7 linked regions of the Homo sapiens genome follow. The protein of the gene in region 7 purifies or fractionates together with the protein of the main gene of each other region. This does not show direct contact. Each region holds a gene or a part of one and is shown on either strand. Other genes may lie near its edges.

What was found.
Region 1: the proteins of SART1 (region 7) and SMC4 fractionate together in Homo sapiens (co-fractionation; one large-scale study listed by BioGRID). This does not show direct contact.
Region 2: the proteins of SART1 (region 7) and DDX23 purify together in Homo sapiens (affinity purification with mass spectrometry; 5 studies listed by BioGRID and IntAct, with this or other methods). This does not show direct contact.
Region 3: the proteins of SART1 (region 7) and MYH10 fractionate together in Homo sapiens (co-fractionation; one large-scale study listed by BioGRID). This does not show direct contact.
Region 4: the proteins of SART1 (region 7) and PRP4K purify together in Homo sapiens (affinity purification with mass spectrometry; 3 studies listed by BioGRID and IntAct, with this or other methods). This does not show direct contact.
Region 5: the proteins of SART1 (region 7) and NCBP3 purify together in Homo sapiens (co-immunoprecipitation; one large-scale study listed by IntAct). This does not show direct contact.
Region 6: the proteins of SART1 (region 7) and RBM42 purify together in Homo sapiens (affinity purification with mass spectrometry; 3 studies listed by BioGRID and IntAct, with this or other methods). This does not show direct contact.

The regions. Positions count from the first base shown.
Region 1 is NC_000003.12:160,433,052-160,435,453, forward strand, and holds the end of SMC4 (structural maintenance of chromosomes protein 4), read left to right. Parts: coding exon 1-158; intron 159-605; coding exon 606-758; 3' UTR 759-1,902; downstream 1,903-2,402. UniProt on the Homo sapiens protein: Central component of the condensin complex, a complex required for conversion of interphase chromatin into mitotic-like condense chromosomes.
Region 2 is NC_000012.12:48,832,210-48,835,163, reverse strand, and holds part of DDX23 (probable ATP-dependent RNA helicase DDX23), read left to right. Parts: intron 1-666; coding exon 667-844; intron 845-1,644; coding exon 1,645-1,887; intron 1,888-2,590; coding exon 2,591-2,742; intron 2,743-2,954. UniProt on the Homo sapiens protein: Involved in pre-mRNA splicing and its phosphorylated form (by SRPK2) is required for spliceosomal B complex formation.
Region 3 is NC_000017.11:8,624,226-8,627,725, forward strand, and holds part of MYH10 (myosin-10), read right to left. Parts: intron 1-3,500. UniProt on the Homo sapiens protein: Cellular myosin that appears to play a role in cytokinesis, cell shape, and specialized functions such as secretion and capping. Involved with LARP6 in the stabilization of type I collagen mRNAs for CO1A1 and CO1A2.
Region 4 is NC_000006.12:4,059,300-4,062,391, reverse strand, and holds part of PRP4K (serine/threonine-protein kinase PRP4 homolog), read right to left. Parts: intron 1,980-3,092; coding exon 1,776-1,979; 3' UTR 1-1,775. UniProt on the Homo sapiens protein: Serine/threonine kinase involved in spliceosomal assembly as well as mitosis and signaling regulation. Connects chromatin mediated regulation of transcription and pre-mRNA splicing.
Region 5 is NC_000017.11:3,839,747-3,843,246, reverse strand, and holds part of NCBP3 (nuclear cap-binding protein subunit 3), read left to right. Parts: intron 1-95; coding exon 96-161; intron 162-3,041; coding exon 3,042-3,147; intron 3,148-3,500. UniProt on the Homo sapiens protein: Associates with NCBP1/CBP80 to form an alternative cap-binding complex (CBC) which plays a key role in mRNA export. NCBP3 serves as adapter protein linking the capped RNAs (m7GpppG-capped RNA) to NCBP1/CBP80.
Region 6 is NC_000019.10:35,632,036-35,635,110, reverse strand, and holds part of RBM42 (RNA-binding protein 42), read right to left. Parts: intron 2,176-3,075; coding exon 2,110-2,175; intron 2,035-2,109; coding exon 1,859-2,034; intron 1,425-1,858; coding exon 1,092-1,424; intron 856-1,091; coding exon 738-855; intron 1-737. UniProt on the Homo sapiens protein: Binds (via the RRM domain) to the 3'-untranslated region (UTR) of CDKN1A mRNA.
Region 7 is NC_000011.10:65,971,734-65,975,233, forward strand, and holds part of SART1 (U4/U6.U5 tri-snRNP-associated protein 1), read left to right. Parts: intron 1-3,500. UniProt on the Homo sapiens protein: Plays a role in mRNA splicing as a component of the U4/U6-U5 tri-snRNP, one of the building blocks of the spliceosome. May also bind to DNA.

The sequences.
Region 1 (2,402 bases), on a different chromosome or scaffold from region 7:
AAAAGATCTTCAACCTTTCGGGAGGAGAGAAAACACTTAGTTCATTGGCTTTAGTATTTGCTCTTCACCACTACAAGCCCACTCCCCTTTACTTCATGGATGAGATTGATGCAGCCCTTGATTTTAAAAATGTGTCCATTGTTGCATTTTATATATATGTAAGTAATCATTTTGGGATTTTCATTCCAGAAACTTTTAGGGGTATCCTAAACATTACACATGGAATTCTTTATTTCTTACAATTGAGCTTTTTCTTTATTGTCTAATAACTCCATCTCCATCTCCTCTGGTATCAGTGGAGACCAAATTATTTTTTATTTGAACCAAATATTTCCATTTTGGAGGAGTAAAATATAAATTAAAAATGCAAATTAGTAGCAGAATCACAGCTAGAATCCTAGGTCATCTTCCTAGATCTTTTCCACTAGAAGTCAAAATAACCAAATTCCTTTCACACTCAAATACTGTTTTATGAATTATTCCTGCCATCATTCCTTTACATGTTATCAATGTAATGTTTATTGTCCAAAAAATATTTGAGGTTACATGTTTGTGTGATTTACCTGTTATTACTTAATGTTTGACTTTTCTTTGTTTCTCTTTAGGAACAAACAAAAAATGCACAGTTCATAATAATTTCTCTTCGAAATAATATGTTTGAGATTTCGGATAGACTTATTGGAATTTACAAGACATACAACATAACAAAAAGTGTTGCTGTAAATCCAAAAGAAATTGCATCTAAGGGACTTTGTTGAACTTTATGCTGAAGATTCTTCAAGTTGATTCAGTGTATTACTGATTTTTTTCTATTTGTAAAGGATTATGAGTTGTATAAAATACATACTCCCTAAACTAGATCATGAAACTGGTTTCTGTTTTATGCAGTTGTCATTTGTAAAGTCTAATAAAATATTCTCTATAATTGCTTCTAGATTACAAAAATATGACAATCTTGTAAGTAGCAGACTATGGAGAAAAATGAGTTACCTGGAGGGTCAGGTAACTTGCCAAACTAAAAAGTATGTTAGTTGAGGCAAAGTCCTAAGCAAGGTTGTGCTATCAAGGCTCAGCATACCTTCGTGGGCCTTTGATTTACCAACACTGGAAATGCCTGCCAACTAATCTTGGATAGATTCTTTAAGGCATTCCACTTAGCTTGCCAGTTGAGACAATCACCACAGTTATTACCCAAATACTATGAACATATTTTTGTAAACCAGTCATTCTGAATTATAGTGATGAGAATTTAAATATATGCTTTTCTAGAATTTGATGTTTGACCATTTATGACTTAATTACCAGAGAGCCAGTAAATTAGGACAGTGTTTCAACAAGCCTAGGCTATCTCGTAAGTTGAAAAATATCCCACTATAGTTGCTTCATGAGTATGAAGTAAGATGGCCTCTGATTTACACTGGTTCAATTTACAAATTTTCAACTTTATGATAGGTTTATCCGGGTACTAAATGCATTTCAACTTGATAGTTTCAACTTATGATAGGTTTACCAGGATGTAGTCCCACTGTTGAGGAGCATCTATTTAGGGGTTAATTACTTTAGTAATAAGTGGAAAGTAAGATACCTTGAGTAATGTTTGCCTATAAAATTGTCAGCGTATTTTTACACTATTGGCTCAAGAATGTTATAATGCTAAGGGACATAAGTTGGCAACCACTTGGTTTTTGGAAGGACTTTCGGTATTGTATTAGAAGTCTGCCCTAGCTGTTAAATTTCTGGGTATTTATCCTAAGGAATTAATTAAAGAGTTAATTGTTCCTTTCTTCAGTGGGCCATTGTTTTAGATATTTAAAAAATCCAACAGTTTCTATCATAATGTAACTGTAAAAATGTAAACACATTATTAGCATGGACTTTTAAATAAAGATTTAAAGAAAGCAAGATCGGAAATTCAAGTACGGTAATTTGTTCTAAATCAAGAATATATAAGGGAAAAGTAAGTTTAAAGTGCTATAATGATAATCAAGTGTTTTCATTTGGTGCGAAAATAGAATTTAATACTTTTATTATATTTTAATAACCAATGCAGTAGAGCTCAGATTTTTTTTTTTTTTTTGAAAGTCTCACTGCATCACCCAGGGTGGAGTGCTGTGGCAAGATCTTGGCTCACTGCAACCCTGCCTCACGGGTTCAAGCGATTCAAGTGCCTCAGCCACATGAGTAGCTGGGACTACAGGTGCACACCACAGTGCCCAGCTAATTTTTGTGTTTTTGGTAGACAGGGTTTTGCCATGTTGGCCAAGCTGGTCTCAAACTCCTGGCCTCAAGTGATCTGCCTGCCTCAGCCTCCCAAAGTGCTGGACTATAGGCATGAGCCACTGCACCCAGCCTGCAGTACTAAGTTTCAAAGAATTAGAAGTACCCAGAACCCATGTGAAAAT
Region 2 (2,954 bases), on a different chromosome or scaffold from region 7:
CTCATATCCTCCTACCTCAGCCTCCCAAGTAGCTGGGATTACAGGTGTGTTCGAACATGCCCAGCTAATTTTTGTATTTTTTGTAGAAACAGGGTTTTACCATGTTGCCTAGACTGGTCTCAAACTCCTGGGCTCAAGTGATTCACTCACCTCAGCCTCCGAAAGTGCTCGGATTATAGGCTTGTGCCACCTTGCCTGGCCTCTGGACTTATTTTTATTTTTATTTTTTTTGGAGACAGAGTGTCTCTGTCACCCAGGCTGGAGTGCAGTGGCGTGATCTCAGCTCACTGCAACCTCTGTCTCCTGGGTTCAAGCGATTCTTCTGCCTCAGCCTCCCGAGTAGCTGGTATTACAGGCGCCGGCCACCACGCCTGGCTAATTTTTGTATTTTTATTAGAGGCAGGGTTTCACCATGTTGGCCAGGCTGGTCTCAAACTCCTGACTTCAGGTGATCCGCCTGCCTCAGCCTCCCAAAGTTCTGGGATTACAGACATGAGCCACCATGCCCAGCCCTGGCCTCTGATTTTTAAGTGAGATCATTGCATTCTTTTCTCATCATCCTCCCCATTCCCATTGCTCCCCGTAAGAGTGACTTTGTCTTGCTCTGGCTTGTGGTTGGATAAGAACCAAAGCTCACGAAGCTGTGGGGCACCCTGTTTACCACAGGATCGAAGAGTCAGACCAAGGCCCTTATGCCATCATCCTGGCTCCCACCCGTGAGTTGGCTCAACAGATTGAGGAAGAGACCATCAAGTTTGGGAAACCGCTAGGTATCCGCACTGTGGCTGTCATTGGTGGCATCTCCAGAGAAGACCAGGGCTTCAGGCTGCGCATGGGTTGTGAGGTTTGTTTTTCTATCTAGCAGCCAGCCTGCTGTCTGGGAAGGCTATCTTGGGGCTTTGTTTCTAGTTTCTGGAATATATGTGCAGTAGTATGAAGAAAGGAGCTGGTTTATATATATGTGCTATTTATTGAGAACTTATGCACCAGGGTTTATATCACAAATAGTATATATCATATATATTAGCTCATTAATTCTCACAATAATGTATGAGAGTGGTATTTCCTTGTTATAGATCAAGCTGAGGTTCAGGTTAATAACTGCCTGAAGTCACAAACAGCTGGCAATGGGCAGAGCTGAGACTCATATCCATAGCCTGTGCTTTTAGTTACTCTTTACTCTGCCAGACCAAATCTTTGACTTTGTGCATTGCCTTCATCTCAGGAAAGTGGAGGAGAGCTCTTTATGAGAAGTCTGCTGTAGAAATTTAGTCTTTTTACAATTTTTTAAAAAAATTTAGTCTTTATACAACCCCCTTCATAGTACCCCTTAGTCTCTCCCATCTAAGAAGTTCCTTCTTCAGGATCTGAAATGATTTGCCAAAAAAAAAAAAGTTTCTACTGATTTTGCCTCCTCTGTCTAATCCTTGCACCTTACTCAGAGACCTCATTCATTCCTGAGAAAATCCAGGCAACAAGTGATTTCATGCCAGTTTGCAGGAGCCTTTACTGCTAAACATAACCAGAGGTTGGGGTCCAAGTTCCTCAGCATTGGAGGTCTGTCACCCAAGTGGGTGGATAGTTCACAGGAAAGAAAAGAAGGGGCACCTGCTGGGCTATAAATGATTATACTGTACTCCTCAGATTGTGATTGCTACCCCTGGGCGTTTGATTGATGTGCTGGAGAACCGCTACCTGGTGCTGAGCCGCTGTACCTATGTGGTTCTGGATGAGGCAGATAGGATGATTGACATGGGCTTTGAGCCAGATGTCCAGAAGATCCTGGAGCACATGCCTGTCAGCAACCAGAAGCCAGACACGGATGAGGCTGAGGACCCTGAGAAGATGCTGGCCAACTTTGAGTCGGGAAAACATAAGTACCGCCAAGTAAGGCTGCTTCCCTGGGCTGGGAAAAGTTGGACAGGCCAAGGCGGGTGGATCACTTGAGCTCAGGAGTTTGAGACCAGCCTGGGCAACATGGCGAAACTCCGTCTCTACAAAAATTTAAAAAATTAGCTGGGCATTGGTGGTGCACACCTGTGGTGCCAGCCACTCAGGAGGCTGAGGTGGGAGGACCTCTTAAGCCTGGGAGGCAGTGGTCGCAGTGAGCTGAGGTCGTGCCACTACTCCATTCCATCCTGGGCAACAGAGTGAGGCCCTGTCTCAAAAAAAAAGAAAAGTTGTACAAGGTTGCCAACCTCCTTTTGGGCCTTTCTTGCCTTAGGTGGGCTCAGAGTACATGTTTCTAGAATGAAGTGTGCCTAGGTACAGTCCTCTGACAGTCCTAAGGGTGGAGCCATTTAGCTTAGCCCTGGAAAAACGATTCCAAAGACTCATGCTGCTACCGGGACCACAGGTGCTAGCAAATGCTCTCAATCCTTCCTGTCATCATAAGATGGAAAGTGCCTTGATGAGCAGGTACTCAGGAAGGATGGGAATTCAGAGGACACTATTTTCTAAGGTGGTGGCTATCAAAGCCTATACTGTGGCCCATTTTAGATTCTTTAGTCTGGGCTGACCTGCCTTCGGTGACAGTGGGATATATGATTATTCCTGCCTGGGTGCAGGGCTGAGCCTCCTGTTTTCGTAGACAGTCATGTTCACGGCCACCATGCCCCCAGCGGTGGAGCGTCTGGCCAGGAGCTATCTTCGGCGACCTGCTGTGGTGTACATTGGCTCCGCAGGCAAGCCCCATGAGCGTGTGGAACAGAAGGTCTTCCTCATGTCAGAGTCAGAAAAGAGGTATGAGGGCAGCTGAGCCAGGGGAAACAGGGTGGAGAATAAAATGGCTCTGAGAACTTTTTTAGTGCAGGTGCAGGGCAGGGCAATTGCTCTGCTGTGTTGAAGAGCTGCTGTTTTCTTGGGCAGAATGTCATGGGCATTAAAGACCCTGAAAGTAGTGTTCATAGATGAGGGTTGGGCATTTCACTTGGAGTGGGAGGTATTATGCATCT
Region 3 (3,500 bases), on a different chromosome or scaffold from region 7:
GAGGAAGCTCCATCACTTTGTGGCTAAGCTATGTCCCCTCCTCTACTTGTGCACTGGCTTTCTGGACCAAATGGCAGGATTTTACATCCATCATCTTTCTAATGTGACTCATCATGATTGCCTGACAGGATCTTTTTGGGATTTGATACCAACTTAAACATTTTTGCTGCTACTCCAAATTCCAGGTTATTATAAATTTCATAGGCATGGCTTCCATCACTTCATTCAAACCAACAGAAGAAGCCAACTGAGTACCTACTCTTGCTCTATCAAATCCCCACTTCTCCCCTCTGTTCACTCCACTCCCCTAGCCAAAAATGCTAGAGGTTCTTTGTAGGCAAGAGGAAATCATAAAGTAGTCTAAGGTTGTTAAGAGGTTCTTGAGTCCATCAGCTAATCTCAACTTCAACAAAATCCCTGAAATGGTATAAAAATATTATGCACTTAGCGTGTGTATATATGTGCTATAACGTTCTCTAGATTCTAAAGGGCTCTATCTGTATCCTAAAAGATTAATCACTGATAGTGGTTACACATTCAACCAACTTCTGGGCACAATGGCCCATAACTGTTATCTCAGCAACTTGAGGGGCTAAGGTGGGAGGAGTGCTTGAAGCCAAATATTTGAGACCAGCCTGGGCAACATAGCAAGATCCCGCCTCTACAGAAAAATTTAAAAATTAGCCAGGCGTGTTGGTGCATATCTAGCCCTTTAACTACTACTAATAATTTACTAGAACCAGCTGGGTGCAGTAGCTCATGCCTATAATCCTAGCACTTTGGGAGGCCGAGATGGGTGGATCACCTGAGGTCAGAAGTTCGAGACCAGCCTGGCCAACATGGTGAAACCCCATCTCCACCAAAAATAACAAAAAATTAGCCAGGCGTGGTGGTGGGTGCCTGTAATCCCAGCCACTCAGGAGGCTGAGGCAGGAGAATTGCTTGAACCTGAGAGGCGGAGGTTGCAGTGAGCTGAGATCGTGCCACTGCACTCCAGGCTGGGTGACAGAGCAAGACTCCGTCTCAAAAACAAACAAAAATAAATTTAAAAAAATAATTTACTAGAACCAAATAGCTAAGATTCTTCAGAAATTACTTGTTGCAATGTAATGCGTTACAAACACTCATCTTCTATAGTAGCGGCTGTCAAATTCAGGCATGCATTTGCAGCACCTAGAGGGTTTATTAAAATACAGATTGCTGGGCTCTATCCCAGAGTCCCTGATTCAGTAGGTATAGGGTAGAGCCTGAGAACTATTTTTTTTTTTTTTGAGACAGAGTTTCACCCTGTTGCCCAGGCTGGAGTGCAGTGGACGCAATCTCAGCTCACTGCAACCTCTGCCTCCAGGGTTCAAGTGATTCTCTTGCCTCAGCCTCCCAAGTAGCTGGGATTACAGGCAGGCCTGCACCATGACCCGCTAATTTTTGTATTTTTAATAGAGATGGGGTTTCACCATGTTGGTCAGGCTGGTCTTGAACTCCTCACCTCAGGTGATCCACCTGCCTCGGCCTCCCAAAGTGCTGGGATTACAAGCGTGAGCCACCGCGTCCAGCCTGAGCCTCAGAATTTGCATTTCTAACAAGTTCCCAGATGCTGCTGCCACTGCTGGTCCTGGGACACATTTGACAACCATTGCTCCAAAGTTCTGTGGTTGCCATGGTGCGCCACTGCTACCAGCAGGTATGTTAGAGTAGAAAAAGAGGTTGAAAACCAAATTCTAGACTAATTCATAACAATTTAAATAACATGTTGATGTCTTAAAGGTTATAGACTTGGATAAAACAAAAACCGCAAAATAAGATGAAACAAAAAATCACACAACATGTGATTAATGTTATTAAAACTTCTATACAAATAAAATTGCTAACACATTTTATACCTAAACTTGCATTAGTCTTCTAAGACATCCTCTTTGGAGAGGGCAATACAGAAAACATTCATAGATACATGTACATTCTGCATAACAGTTTTAAAAGCCTCTAGGGACTGGTCTAATAACACTATTAACAAGTTGTCTCTTTCCAACTTAAACGTTGCACACTGGTAAAAAGAAAGGAGGCCAGGTGGGGTGGCTCACGCCTGTAATCCCAGCGCTTTGGGAGGGCGAGGCAGGTAGATTGCTCGAGTCCAGGTGTTCAAGACCAGCCTGGGCAACATAGCGAAACCCCGTCTCTACAAAAAATACAAAAAATTAGCTGGGCTTGGTGTCACAGGCCTGCAGTCCCAGTTCTTCAGGAGGATGAGGCAGGAAGATCACTTGAGCCCAGGAGGCAGAGGTTGTAGTGAGCTGAAATCACACCACTGCACTCCAGCCTCGGCAACAGAATGAGACTCTGTCTCAAAATAATAATAAATAATAATAATAATAATAATAATAATAATAAGTAAAATAAAAAATTTAAAAAAAAAGAAGAAAGGAGGCATGGCTTCAAGGTGGGAAACATCACAGGTAAATTTGAGAACAAATAATAGGATACACACTCCACCTTTCAGAAGGGTAGAATCTATTAAAAGAAAATATTCAACTATAACAAAATATGACAAGTTTCTCTTACTATTCTTATCAGGTGTAAACTGCATATCCTACAGAGCACTTAGGAAACTGTCTTGCTGTCAGTAGACACGCACACACTTCTTAAATTTTACACTGGACATGTAATTAGATGCTTAAATTTAGCAGGTGACTATAAATTAGAATAATTTAACAAATAACTTCTAGAACAGGTCTAGAAGCAGTAGATTATATATCTTAAAATTATTTTATCAAATTGGGACATCTTACATATTATCAGTACTTTTTCTAGATGGGGAAATGCTTGTAATTTAGTATTTTAAAAAACCCAGTAGAACACAAAAGTGTAATTACACAGCATGTTCCCAATTTTGTGGGGAAAACTACATACACGTGTGTATTTTTTTTTTAAACGGAACAAATATTCATTGGGTCTTTACTGGGTAGTAGGATTACCAATGACTTTCACCTTTTCAGTCTCTTCTACAACTAAACACTATGAGGAGAGTCATCTGTTCCACGCTGTATCTTGAGCATTTTGTCTAGTCCCTGGTATATAACAGGGGATCTGTACCTATTGATCAATATTTACGTGAATGGTCCCAACCCTCATAGTGAAATTCAACTTCTCCACAACCAAAAAGCTATTATTCCTTCAACTCCTGACCCAAATGCCATCCTTTCAGAAGTTCTTTTCAGGTCAATGTGGCAATTTAATCCTTTTCCTTCTCCTAACATTTTGTACTGTTCTCCTGACTTTCTTCTTACCCTACCCTGCGTTGTACCAGAGGGCTTTGCAGCTGTTAAGTGTTCATATTATTGTTTACCTGATAGAGTTCATGAGACCATTGGAGATATTTTGTTCAGTTTAATTCTTCACTTGTAATTGTCAAATACATTTATTTCACTCCATAATACATTGGTACCCAATCTGGATAATACTGGTGTTTAACAGTGTACCACTCACCAGTGATTTGCTTTGCAGGA
Region 4 (3,092 bases), on a different chromosome or scaffold from region 7:
AAATTCCTTTGTGTTGCAAAACCAAGCTGATTTAAACGATTTTGTCTTAAATTGTTGCTAAATGTTTATCTACACATGCTGTCAGAAATAACCTTGTTAAGAAGGTGAAGCTGGTGTCTCAGCAAATCAGACCCCTTGGAGAAGGCGTCGAATGGCCTGTGCCCCGTTTTCCTTTTTCTCTTTCCGCACCATCAAAAGGAAAAGTGAGAAAATAGCAGAAACATTAGTTAAATCCTGAATTATACCCCATAACCTACAGGAATAATCTCACTACACTGAAAGCTGACAATATTTGTAGGATTTTTTGAAATAATTAGGATCCTAATTATTAATAAACTGGTAATTTTGGCTAGGTTTACATCTTTAACTAATAATACTTTCAATTAAAAACTTTCAGGAAAAAAACAAAAGGTTGCTTTTAACTATTTATGGTTTACCTGACTTACCAGCACTGAAGACAAAAACTTTTAAAAATGGCTACAAATGCCTTGTTCACAAAAGACTTTATTATCTAGTGATGCATACTGAGAACATACAGAAATCTGCATGGTCCACTTCACATGCAGTAGAACAATCTTCACTTTACAATAAGTGAGTGTCAACTGTTTTATGCAATAGACAACACTTTAAAGTCACATTCTTAAAGAAAAGCTTCATTTACAAAAGAAATAAAAGGTAAAGAAGCAATTACCGCTTTTAAAAAGCAGCTGCTTTGTTCAAGAGTGGAAGGTTTATGCCTGTATTGAAAGACAACATGATCACAAATAATGAAAACAATGAACAAATGAAAAACACTTTTACCATAAAGCAGTACACTTTCAAAATGACATACAAATAGTTAAAAATTTCATTACGTTGTCTAGCCTTTAAATATGAGGACTTTCAGAATTAGGCCTCAACATTTGTAATTAGTAAATGAAAACTACGCATCGTTTCTATGTCACTAGGAACTATATTTAACAAAATGTATATAAAGTCTATAGCAAGTTGATTTAAAAAAAGTAAAGTTAATAAGAAACAGTACACTGAAGGCGCTCTATCCATCAAGCGCGTTCTCTTCCAATTTTAAATGTGATGAACAAACAGAAATTGTAACTATGCCACAGTTGCAATGCCAAAAAATAAAACAAGATCAGTTATCACACATGCAGGGAATTCTGCCACAAAGCTAACATCCCTCATTTGTCAGTTGTTCCAATAAAATAACATCTTAAAACACCAGAGATGTTGATGGTTTAGCTTACCTTCAGTGTACTGAATGCTGCACACAACCTGCTTTAAAAGGAGACCATCCCTGCAGGCAGGCTCAAGAAGGAACAGACCCCTTTCGGCACTGACTACACCAAGGGCATGCTGCTGTGGCCTGCACACACACACCTAGGAAAACGTGAATATAAACAGCATTTATGCTGGCCATTTTATCTCAAGACCAAAATGAAGCCAAGTCTGCTAAGAACAAATCAACCACCCAATATTACTACTCATTTCATAACAGATGCTTTTGTCTTTATGTGAACTGCAACCATATACATTAGCACTGTAATTTTGTGCAGTCTTGGCAATTTAAAACAGTCTACAGTGAAATTTCACGTAAGACACAAAACAGATTAACTAACATCTCTAAAAGAAATATCACCCTTGGTGTTAATTCAAATATATCATGCTTCCTCAAATTTGCTGGAGAAATATTTATAAGTTTATATACATTAATAAACTGCTGTGAAATTTCTTCAGTCTTTGTATTTACTCAAACCCTTGGAGTTTCTTCATCTTGTTTAAATTTTTTCCTGGATGAAGGCGTGCTGTAGGGCCTGGTTGATGCTAATTCGTTTAGCTGGGTCCAACATCAGAATCTGGTCCAACAAGTCCTTTAGCTGGTGTACTTTCTTACGTTGGTCTTCAGGAAGTCTCTGGCACCCAATCAAGTCAGCCAACAGGTCCTTAGTTGGATTAATGGTGCTCATAACAGTAACTTTCTCCTAAAAATAATTTTTAAAATGCGTATCTCTAAATAAGTTACTAAGCATATACAACTTAAATCAGATTGTTTTGGGGTCTATCAAAAATATTAAAAACATGCATATACATACAAAATATATACACACAGTGCACATTTTGGGCAATGACAGACTGCATATATGACAGTGGTCCCTTAAGATTGGAATACCGTATTTTTGCTCTCCCTTTTCTATGTTTAGATACATACATACACTTACCACTTGCAAAAGTGCCTACAGTATTCAGTCCACCAACTTACAGTTCAGGCCTAGAAGCAAAAGGCCATACTACTTACCCTAGATGTGTGTGAGTGTATGCTGTGGTTATGTGACGCATGACTGTATCATCATCATCTATTCATTTAAAACTTTGCTGTGGTTTCCTCTATGCTGTACATCTTTTTAAAAGGTAACCAAAAAACTTAAATGAAAAAGTTGATGCCAACTCTGGGCTGGGCGCGGTGGCTCACACCTGTAATCCCAGCACTTTGGAAGCCCAAGGTAGGTGGATCACTTGAGCTCAGGAATTCGAGACCAGCCTGGGCAACACTGCAAAACCCATCTCTACTAAAAATACAAAAATTATCCAGGCGTGGTGGCACACAATTGTAATCCCAGCTACTCGGGAGGCTGAGGCATGAGAATTGCTTGAACCTGGGAGGCAGAGGTTGCTGTGAGCCAAGATCGTGCCATTGCACTTCACCCTGGGTGACAGGTGACAGAGCGAGACTCAGTCTCAAAAAAGAAAAAAAAAGTCAACTCCAAGTTAGCAATGAAAATTTACAATAAGATAAGCATGAGCTGTTTGCACTGTACTTTCCCTACCTTGAAGTGGTAAGTGACAGACATGTGAATAAGTTAATACCCTGAAGTATTATTAAGTGCTCTGACAAAGACAGGGACATATGCTATAATAATGGGACAAAAATAAGGAAATCATTACTTCAATCTGGGAGTTTTCAAAAGGCTCATACAGAATGTGTATTTCAGCTGAGGCTTGAAGATGATACATTTTTTAGGGGGTTGGGGGTGAGGCAGCACAGGAAATGACTAAGCTCAGGGAGGTCTGTTAGCAAAGGCACAAAGGTCTGAACC
Region 5 (3,500 bases), on a different chromosome or scaffold from region 7:
AAAGGAAAAAAGAACCTGCAGATGTCAGGCCGACTTTTATTATAGGTTTTTCCTCAATTGCTGTCTGAATTTCTCACCCTTCCCCTTTGTGTTAGGACACGAGCAGAAGATATGAAAACAAGGCTGGCAGCTTCATCACTGGAATTGATGTCACCTCCAAGGTAAGACAGGCTATGATTTATTTATTCAGCTTGATAAGCAAGTGAACTTAATGAATTTGATCCCTAGGACATAACAGTAAATATTTCCTCTTTTATTTTGTTGCTGGATTTAAATTTTTTTTCTAAAAAAAATTGTGTTATTGGCCAGGCACGCTGGCTCATGCCTGTAATCCTAGCATTTTGAGAGGCCAAGCAAGTGGATCGTTTAAGCCCAGGAGTTCGAGACCAGCCTGGGCAACATAGTGAGACCCGTCTCTACGAAAGATACAAAAATTAGTCGGGTGTGGTAGCACAGGTCTGTAGTCCCAACTACTCAAGAGGCTGAGGTGGGAGGATCGCTGGAGCCTGAGAGGTTGAGGCTGCACTGAGCTGAAATCGTGCCACTGCACTCCAGTGGGGGCAACAAAAAAAAATTTTGTGTTATACAACGATGTCTTCATGCATCCTGAAACGGTACAGGCAGCATTTGTGTGTTCTTACAGCCATGAAAGGATAAAATCACTCTACTTAGATACCTGTGTTGAACCGTTTCCAAGAAAATGTCCAAGACGGGGGATGCTTTTTTAAATGGTATGTCCATTTCTAAAAAAATGTGTACTGTTTCCACTTGAAATGAAACAAAACATGAAAAGTGCCTGGCAGATGGTAGGCCCCCCATATTTAGGTGGAGTCTCGCTCCGTTGCCCAGGCTGGAGTGCAGTGGTGCGATCTCGGCTCACTGCAGCCTCCACCTCCTGGGTTCCAGCGATTCTTCTGCCTCAGCCTCCTGAGTAGGTAGGACTACAGGCGCCCGCCACCACGCCTGGCTAATTTTTGTAATTTTAGTAGAGACAGGGTTTCATTGTATTGGTCAGGCTGGTCTTGAATTCCTGACTTCAGGTGATCCACCTGCCTCAGCCTCCCGAAGTGCTGGGATTCCAGGTGTAAGCCACCGTGTCGGCATAATAGGCCCTTAATAAGACTATTGCCTTGTATCTGATGATTGCTATTACCAGATTACCACCTTCATTGTAACACCTCATAGAGTCAAGCCTATTATTTTCCTTATATGTAGTCAATACATGTAAGTTGCTTTAATCAGTGATGTTCCGTTTTAGACATTTTTTCTGATTTTAATGTTTACAGTTAAGTTTGGAACAGAATTTTGTATTACATTTCTGAATAATAGTATATATTGCTGTATTGAATACATAAAAGCAAAAATAAAAATATATTTCGTGCCTTCCTTTTTATAGTGTTTTTTTTTTTTTTTTGAGACAGAGTCTCACTCTGTCACCCAGGCTGGAGTTCAGGGGTGCGATCACGGCTCACTGCAACCTCTGCCTCCTGGATTCAATTGATCCCTCTGCCTCAGCCTCCCGAGTAGCTGGGACTACAGGTGGATGCTATCATGCCCAGCTAACCTTTTTATGGTTTATCTGTGTCTCTTGTGTTTCCAATCACTTAAAGGCCCCCCATCCCCGCAAAAAAAAAAAAAAAAAAAGAGAGAGAATTGGTCATCTTTTAGACAAGAAAAGAGAATAAAGTGAAAATCTTTTCTTACTGTAATTGAAAAAGTAAACTATTCATAATCTTACACTGTTTGCCATTATATGACACAGGTATATGGGAAAAGGGTGATAGTCTCAGAGTTAGTACTTTGTTTCTAAAGGAAGGTAAATTGTTGTTTGTACTAGGAAGACTTCAGTGAAGAAAATGAGCGTTAACTATTGGGAAAGAACAGAAGTGTTGCAACTTTACCAATCCCCACAAGCTCTCTGTAGTCAGACCTTCAATTAGTGTGGCAAAGTCAATATACAATTAGTGAAGGGGACTGGGCGCGGTGGCTCACATCTGTAATCCTGGCACTTTGGGAGGCCGAGGCAGGCAGATCACGAGGTCAAGAGATCGAGACCATCCTGGCCAACATGGTGAAACCCCGTCTCTACTAAAAATACAAAAATTAGCTGGGCGTGGTGGTGTGCACCTGCAGTCCCAGCTACTCAGGAGGCTAAGGCAGGAGAATCTCTTGAACCCGGGAGGCGGAGGTTGCTGTGAGCTGAGATCGTGGCAGCCTGGCGACAGAGTGAGAGTCCGTCTCAAAAACAAAAACAAACAAAACCAATTAGTGAAGGGTTCCTAAGAGCCATCAGAAACCCACAGTTGGACCTGGGTTTATTTTAGCTCTTAGAAGAAACTTACAAAGCTGATTATTTTTTCAGTAAAGTGTCAATGGTTCTTATCACTTAGAGATGAAAACTGGTGATTCCGTGGACACGAGGCTGGAAGAGGAGGGAGAGTTTCTTTGCTTCGGTGTTATTTTTAAACAGACTAGCTTTAGGGAGTGGACTGCTCAGGCAGTTATAATGTGGAAGAGCGTGATAGGTGTGATTACCATTGCTCAGACAATGTGAAGTGGTTGTAGGTGGGCTCCTAGAAATAGCACTGGAATCAGATCTGCTTGCTTAATAGCTGAAGTATCTCCAGCAAACCTTTTTGCTTTTTTGTGCCTCCATTTCTGCACCTGGAAAATTGGGATGTTGAAATTGTTTAGTTGTAATTTGTTGGCATAATTGATAATAACAAATGAAGTGTCATATAACTTTATAAACTTTAAAGGACTATTCATTCAGTCAGCAGATACTCACTGAGTTCCTACTATGTCCCAGGCACAGTGATAGGCTGTGTTATGTCGGAGATGGTTGCAAATTACAGCGATATTAACATATCCCCCCAGTCATTGAGTGTGAATATCCAGGTCTCTGCCAGACTGATTCAAGGTGTAGTGTTGCTTATTTCTTCTTTTTTAGTTCAGGTTTGTCACTGATGCATCATGATGCATGTGTGATTTAACTCGCCTTCTCCATATTTTACTACTTTCACTTTTTCTGTACTTTCTAGGAAGCAATTGAAAAGAAAGAGCAGCGAGCCAAGCGCTTCCATTTTCGATCGGAAGTAAATCTTGCCCAAAGAAATGTAGCCTTGGACCGAGACATGATGAAGAAAGGTACAGGGTGTTTTGTGGGAAATTTGTCCACATTTCCCCAGAGAGTGCCTTTTCCCTGCCATCACCTCATGCTTCTGGCCTTGCCTTGCGTGTCCACTCCTTATCCAAGCACTCTTGTGAGAAGGGACCTGTGAAGTCTCCATTTCTGAGGTCACCTGTTTAAAGTTCAGATGCTGTCAGCTGGCTCAGATGTTAGAGCTGGGAAATAAGAGATTGTCTTTTCTGAGGAGGCCCAGAAAAAGTTACCAGTTAGTGGCAGAGCTGAGATTCGAACCTGTGCTTCTAAGGACCCTTACTCATTTTCTCCTTTTATCGTAGAGGTGTTAACTTTTCTTTGCCTTTAAACGTAGTGA
Region 6 (3,075 bases), on a different chromosome or scaffold from region 7:
ACTCCTGACCTCAAGTGATCCACCTGCCTCCGCCTCCCAAAGTGCTGGGATTACAGGTGTGAGCCACCGTGCCTGGCCAAAATATCTCTTTTCTTAGGAGATAAATACTGAGATATTTAGAAGTGATTAATTCACTTATAACTTGCTTCAAATGACTGAGCTAAAAACAAAGAAACCAGATACATACACAAAGAGGAAAAAAGTGAACACAGCAAAATGTTAATTGCAGAATCTAGGTGGTGGGTAGACGGGTGTTTACTGTGCCATCTGTGTTTAAAATTTTTCCCGGCCAGGTACAGTGGCTCATGCCTGTAATCCCAGCACTTTGGGAGGCTGAGGCAGGAGAATCACTTGAACCTGGGGGGCGGAGGCTGCAGTGAGCCAAGATTGCGCCACTGCACTGCAGCCTGGGCGACAGAGTGGTACTCTGTCTCATAAAAAAAAAAAAAAAAAATTTTTATCCTAAGAGTTGGGAAAAAAAAAGAATGCTCTCTGAAGCCAGGCACCTCATGAGTAAAACAGGCTACAAAGCCCCATGTCCCCGTCACCTCCACCAAGCTCCGGCCCATGGCTAGGTGAAGAACCAGCCCCTGAGCCATAGCCTCCCCTCCCCAAGGTGGGCTAACAACAGCGCCCACCCTACTGAGAGGGTTCACCCTCCCAGTCTGCAGCCCAAGGACAGCAGCCTGGTCTGACCTTGGCCGAGCCACGCCTGACCTCGAGCTTCAGCAGCTTACCTGCATCCCACTCCAGCAGGCTGGGGTCCTCCCAGCTGCTCCCTGCCGCTGTGCGAATGCACCGTTTCAATTTCTCTGGCTTCCCCTTCTTCTTGTCTTCACCCAGGGGCTCTGGGACCTGCAGAGGAAAGGGGAGAGGTGCAAAGGGGTTGGTATTGGGGTCTCCCACTGTCCTTTGGTCCCCGGCCCTCCTGCCACCACAGTAAGGGCTGGATGTGCTTCTGGATGTGGGGCACATGTGTCCGCCTCCCTCCCCCAGGTCCTCCTGCTGTCCGGTCTGTCTGTGTGGAAGTTCCTGGGCTCCTGTCTGCCCCCCGTCCCTTCTGTCCCTTCACCGCTAGGCTCCCTGCTTACCTCAAGAGCCATGAGGCCTGGGGGTGGCTCTGGCCGAGGGGGCCGGGGCCGAGGACGCAGGGACAGGAGTTCAGGAATGCGCAGCGGGGGCAGGAGGCCGCGGACGACCTCCAACGGGAGGGGCAGGGGCTCAGGCTCGGGCAATGGCATGGCCAGGGCCAGCGGCAGGCTGGGCCCAATGACTGCAGGGCCAGCTGGGGCACCTCCTGCCCCCACGGCCACAGCCGCGCTAGCCTCCTCCAGCCCAGCCGCCGCCGCCACCACTGCCTCTTCCTTCTCTTTCAGGCCCAACCCCAGGCCTAGGCCCAGCTCTCGGGGTGCTGCTGGCTCTTCCTGTGGGTAAGAGGAGAGCATGAGGGGGGCCGGCTCACAGGCTCAGACTTTACTGTCATCTCCATTCCATCCAACAAAGAAAGGGCCTGGGGGCCAGAGAGCAGCCAAGAGACACCCAAGCAGAGAGTCTCCAGCCAGACAAACACAGAGAAGGAGAAACACAGGCAGAGAGAGACAGCCACAGACAAGAACATCAGTAACAATCAAAAGAGAAATATTCCAATAGCATGTTTCTCTCTGTACTCCCTTCACAAAAGGAGAGAACAGATTTTGCCACAGAAAGATGCAGAAAGAGACAGAGACAAAGGCAGAGTGAGAAGGTAGAGAAACAGAAAGTCAGGAGAGAGGCCAACTCAGACATAGCCCATTGGGCCAGGATGGATGGTCTCCCCGTCCACCGCACATCTGACCGTTAGTTCCCTGTTCACACTCACCAGAGGGGGCCTCAGTGCAGCCATGGAGCCCAGCGGGGGCCCTGGAGCCCGAGCCATTGGTGGCAGCATCATGGGTGGTCCAGGGGGCCCAGGCAGAGGGGGGCCCACGAGGGCCTGGTGAGGGGGCCGTAGGGCCATAGGGCGGGGGCCGGCTGCTGCAGAGGAGAGAGCGGAATCTGTCAGGGTGTTAGTGGGGAGTTCCAGGGCCTGGGGGGAGTTATGTGGCAGGGATGATGACCCTGGCCCCTCACCTGCTCTCTGTAGCACGTGGGGGACGAAGGCTGGACGCAGGATAGGGGCCCTCTGGGGGGCCACAGCTGTGGGAGAGAGAGATGGGGGTGTGTGTCATGGGGGACAGGGGCACTTGGGACAAGGTGTGTGTGTGCATGCGTGTGTGTGTGTGCACTCTCAGCATCAAGAAATCCTGGAGAAGAGTCTGGGGAGCCCTCCTGGAGATGTGGGGGCCTCTCCCCTGGTTCATTCCATGAAAATTTACCACTGAGAAGCTCCTCTGGCTCAGCCCTGTGGCAGGCAATGCTGGGGACACACCAACAGACCCAGGGTTCTCAGGGAGCTCCTGGTCCAGAGGAGGAGGGAATGGAGACATCACTAGAGAAGGAGAGCCAGTGGGGACCAGCGCTGGAAGCAGGGAAGCCCAGGCAGTGGGATCAGTGCTAAGAGAGGGGAGCCCTCTGACCCAGCCAGGCCCAGGGAAGGCTTCCTGGAGAAAGGGACCTGTGAGCTGAGACCCAAGGGGCAATGAAGTGTTAGGCAAGGGGTGAGTGGGAATATTATTGGCAGGAAGAATATTTATAAGCAAAACCTTTCCCTTTTCAGTTTAGTGTAACTGTAATAGAAGTAGTGGGGCTTAGAGAGTGTCATGAGAAGGGCTGAGCAGCCAGCAGGCACCCCAGTAGAGCTTTTTTGTTCTTAAAGCACAGCATTCTTGGCTGAGCCATGGGTGTCCTCCTGAGGGCACTGGGGAGCCACAGCAGGGTTGGAAGCTGGGCAGGGGAAGTAGGTCAGATTTGCATTTTGATCAAAACCATACTAAAAAGTAAGAGACATTACAACTTCTCAGAGATCATCAGATTAATAAGTATAACAGGATTTAGGTAACATAAGTAGCACGTTTGGTTTAACCGAGATTATACCAGAATTTTACATCCAAGTAAGAACACGCATCCTTTTCATACATATAAGGAAGTAATGTCCTA
Region 7 (3,500 bases):
TTTCACAAAGGAGAGGTTCTGTTGATTTCCCCCTGAGTCTAAACTGGGTAATGAGGGACATAACAGAGAATGATGGGTGTGAGGACAGGGCCTGGAGTCGTGATGTGGTTGAAGAATTACTGGATTGAAGTTAATACAGTCAATGAGCTAGAAAGAAAGGCTGGAGAGAACAGAAAGGATCCTTGGAATTGAGGGGTTGTTTTGTTTTGTGATAGTGTCTCACTTTGTCACCCAGGCTGGGGTGCAGTGACTCTATCTCAGCTCACTGCAATTTCCACCTCCTAAAGGTGCTCTGTCCACATACAGTCATTGGGGGTTAGGGCTTCCCGATATGAATTTAGGGGTTACACAATTCCTAGATAGGACAATATATTGTCAAGATGTCCATCTCATGTAGTTCATTTCTAGGTTAAATGCAACTCCAGTAAAAATCCCAATAGGGATTATTTTGGAAGCTGGAAAATGATTCTGAAATTGGATAAAGTAGGGGCATTGTGGCAGTGTGGGATTGCATAAGGATAGACTAACAGAACAGAGAGACCAGACAGCGGGGCCCCGAGACAGAATCGTGTCCCAGTGGGAAGAGTCGCTCGTCAGTGCAGCGAGTGGGCGTGGGACAGTCAGTTATCTATTTGGGGAAAAAATGAAATTGGGTTTATACCTCACACCTTGCAGATAGATTAAGAACTTCAAAGTAAAAACTTCACATTTCGGAATCAAATTAAGGAAATTACATTTATAACTTTTTGGTAGAAAAGATTTTTTAAGTTGTCAGCATAGCCAAGGCAGGAGAATTGCTTGAGGCCAGGAATTTGAGACCAGCCTGGGGCAACACAGCAAGACCACCCCCCCTACCAACCCCATCTCTAAAAATGTTTTTTTAATTAGCTGGGCATGGTAGCATGTGTCTGAAGCCTCAGCTACGCCGGAGGCTAAGGCAGGAGGATTGCTTGAATCTAGGAGTTCGAGGTTATAGTCAGCTATGATAGACTATAGCTGACTATATCACAGATAGCTATGATAGCCTGGGTGATAGAACAAGATCCTGTCTCAAAAAAAAAAAAAAACCAAGAAACCCACAGGTTCCATGGGTGAGTTTCTTCAAGAAACCATGAAGAAAAAAGTGAACGTGTAACTACATAGAAATTGAGAACGTGGCCGGGCGCGATGGCTCACGCCTGTAATCCCAGCACTTTGGGAGGCCAAGGCGGGCGGATCACGAGGTCAGGAGATGAGACCATCCTGGTCAACACAGTGAAACCCTGTCTCTACTAAAAAAAATACAAAAAAATTAACCAGACGTGGTGGCGGGCACCTGTAGTCCCAGCTACTAGGGAGGCTGAGGCAGGAGAATGGTGTGAACCCAGGAGGCGGAGCTTGCAGTGAGCCGAGATCGCACCACTGCACTCCAGCCTGGGTGACAGAGCAAGACTCCGTCTCAAAAAAAAAGAAATTGAGAACGTAAGTTTTTTGTTTTTTGTTTTTTTACAAAACATACCATGAAGAATATAAAAAGGCAGACCAAAAAGAGAAGATATTTGCCCATATATACCACCAAGAATGGGTTGGTGTCAAGAGTATACAAACAGACAAAACAAATCAACACAACAGGAAAATAGGCGAAAGATGTAGATAAGACAGGCAGTTCACAGAAGAGAAAGCCTAACTCACCAGGAAAATACCCGGTGAATCCAGTTTCAGGAGGGATCACAGAAAGGTGAACCAAAACAGTGAGGCACCTGCCACCTGCCAACAATTCCGCAGAAAGGTCCAAGCCTGACAGTAGCGAGTAGGAGTAAAGGACATGGAGCGGCCAGAGTCCTCAGCCACGCTACTCACAGCCATGGGCAGGAGTCTAATCAGATGAGAGGGAATGTGTGCGTGCCCGGGGCCCACCCCACACCTCTCCCGAGTGTGCCCATGTGCACCAGGAGACATTGTCAGTGGGCCTGCAGCCGCAGTACTTGGGACAAAAAAAGTCCATCCTCAGTGGGCTAGAGAGCCAGATCAAGGAGCATCCAGCTCACGGGCTGTGATTCCATAGTGGAAACTGATGAGCTACAGCCGTGTGCATCAGGGTTACTCTCAGGGGCACAGATTTTTTTACAAAACAAATCACAGAAGAGTCATACAGTGTGACTCAGGTTATAGAATAATTAATACACAACAAAATAACTGTTCAGGGGCAGGTCCTTATGTGCTAAAGCCATGAAGACAAGCCGGTGAGTCATGACCATGGATGGGGAGGGGACACTCAAGTCTGGGCAGGGCATTAGTGATGCTGCCCCAGCCCCAGGGAGAGGGACATGGGTGTGTGTTTAGTTAATGTTTTAAAAACTATATCAGCCGCTGGGTGCGGTGGCTCACACCTGTAATATCAGCACTTTGGGAGGCCTAGGCAGGTGGATCACAAGATCAGGAGATTGAGACCATCCTGGCTAACATGGTGAAACCCCCTCTCTACTAAAAAAAAAAAAAAAAAAAAAAAAAATTAGCCGAGCATGGTGGTGCATGCCTGTAATCCCAGCTACTCAGGAGGCTGAGGCAGGAGAATCACTTGAACCCGAGAGGTGGAGGTTGCAGTGAGCCAAGATCGTGCCACTTCACTCCAGCCTGGCCAACAGTGAGACTCTGTCTCAAAAAAAAAAAAAAAAAAAACCATATCAGCCGGGTGTGGTGGTTCACACCTATAGTCCCAGCACTTTGGGAGGCTGAGGTGAGTGGATCACTTGAAGCTGGTTTTGGGACCAGCCTGGGCAACATGGTGAAACCCTGTCTCTACTAAAAATACAAAAATTAGCTGGTTGTGGAGGCATGCACCTGTAGTCCCAGCTACTTAGGAGGCTGAGGGAGGAGGATCACTTGAACCTGGGAGGTGGAGGTTGCAGTGAGCCTATATCGCCCCATTGCACTCCAGCATGGGTGATAGAGTGAGATGGTCTCAATAAATAAGTAGCATATGATGCATTAGATATACCTCGTTTTATGTTTACAATGTTCATTAAAAAATAAGTGTTCCTGGCCAGGCGCGGTGGCTCACGTCTGTAACCCCAACACTTTGGGAGGCCAAGGCAGGCAAATCACGAGGTCAGGAGATGGAGACCATCCAGGCTAGTACGGTGAAACCCCATCTCTACTGAAAAAAAATACAAAAAAATTAGCTGGGCGTGGTGGCGGGCGCCTGTAGTCCCAGCTACTCGGGAGGCTGAGGCAGGAGAATGCTGTGAACCCAGGAGGCGGAGCTTGCAGTGAGCTGAGATCGCGCCACTGCACTCCAGCCTGGGCGACAAAGTGAGACTCTGTCTCAAAAAGAAATAAAAATTAAAAGACAAACAAACAAACAAATGTTCCTGGATGTCCTGGAAGACTTTTTTTTTTTTTTTTTTTGGAGACAGGGTATTGCTCTGTTGCCCAGGCTTGAGTGCAGTGGCAAGATCACGGCTCACCATAGCCTCGGCCTCCAGGCTCAAGCAATCCACCCACCCCAGCCTCCCAAGTAG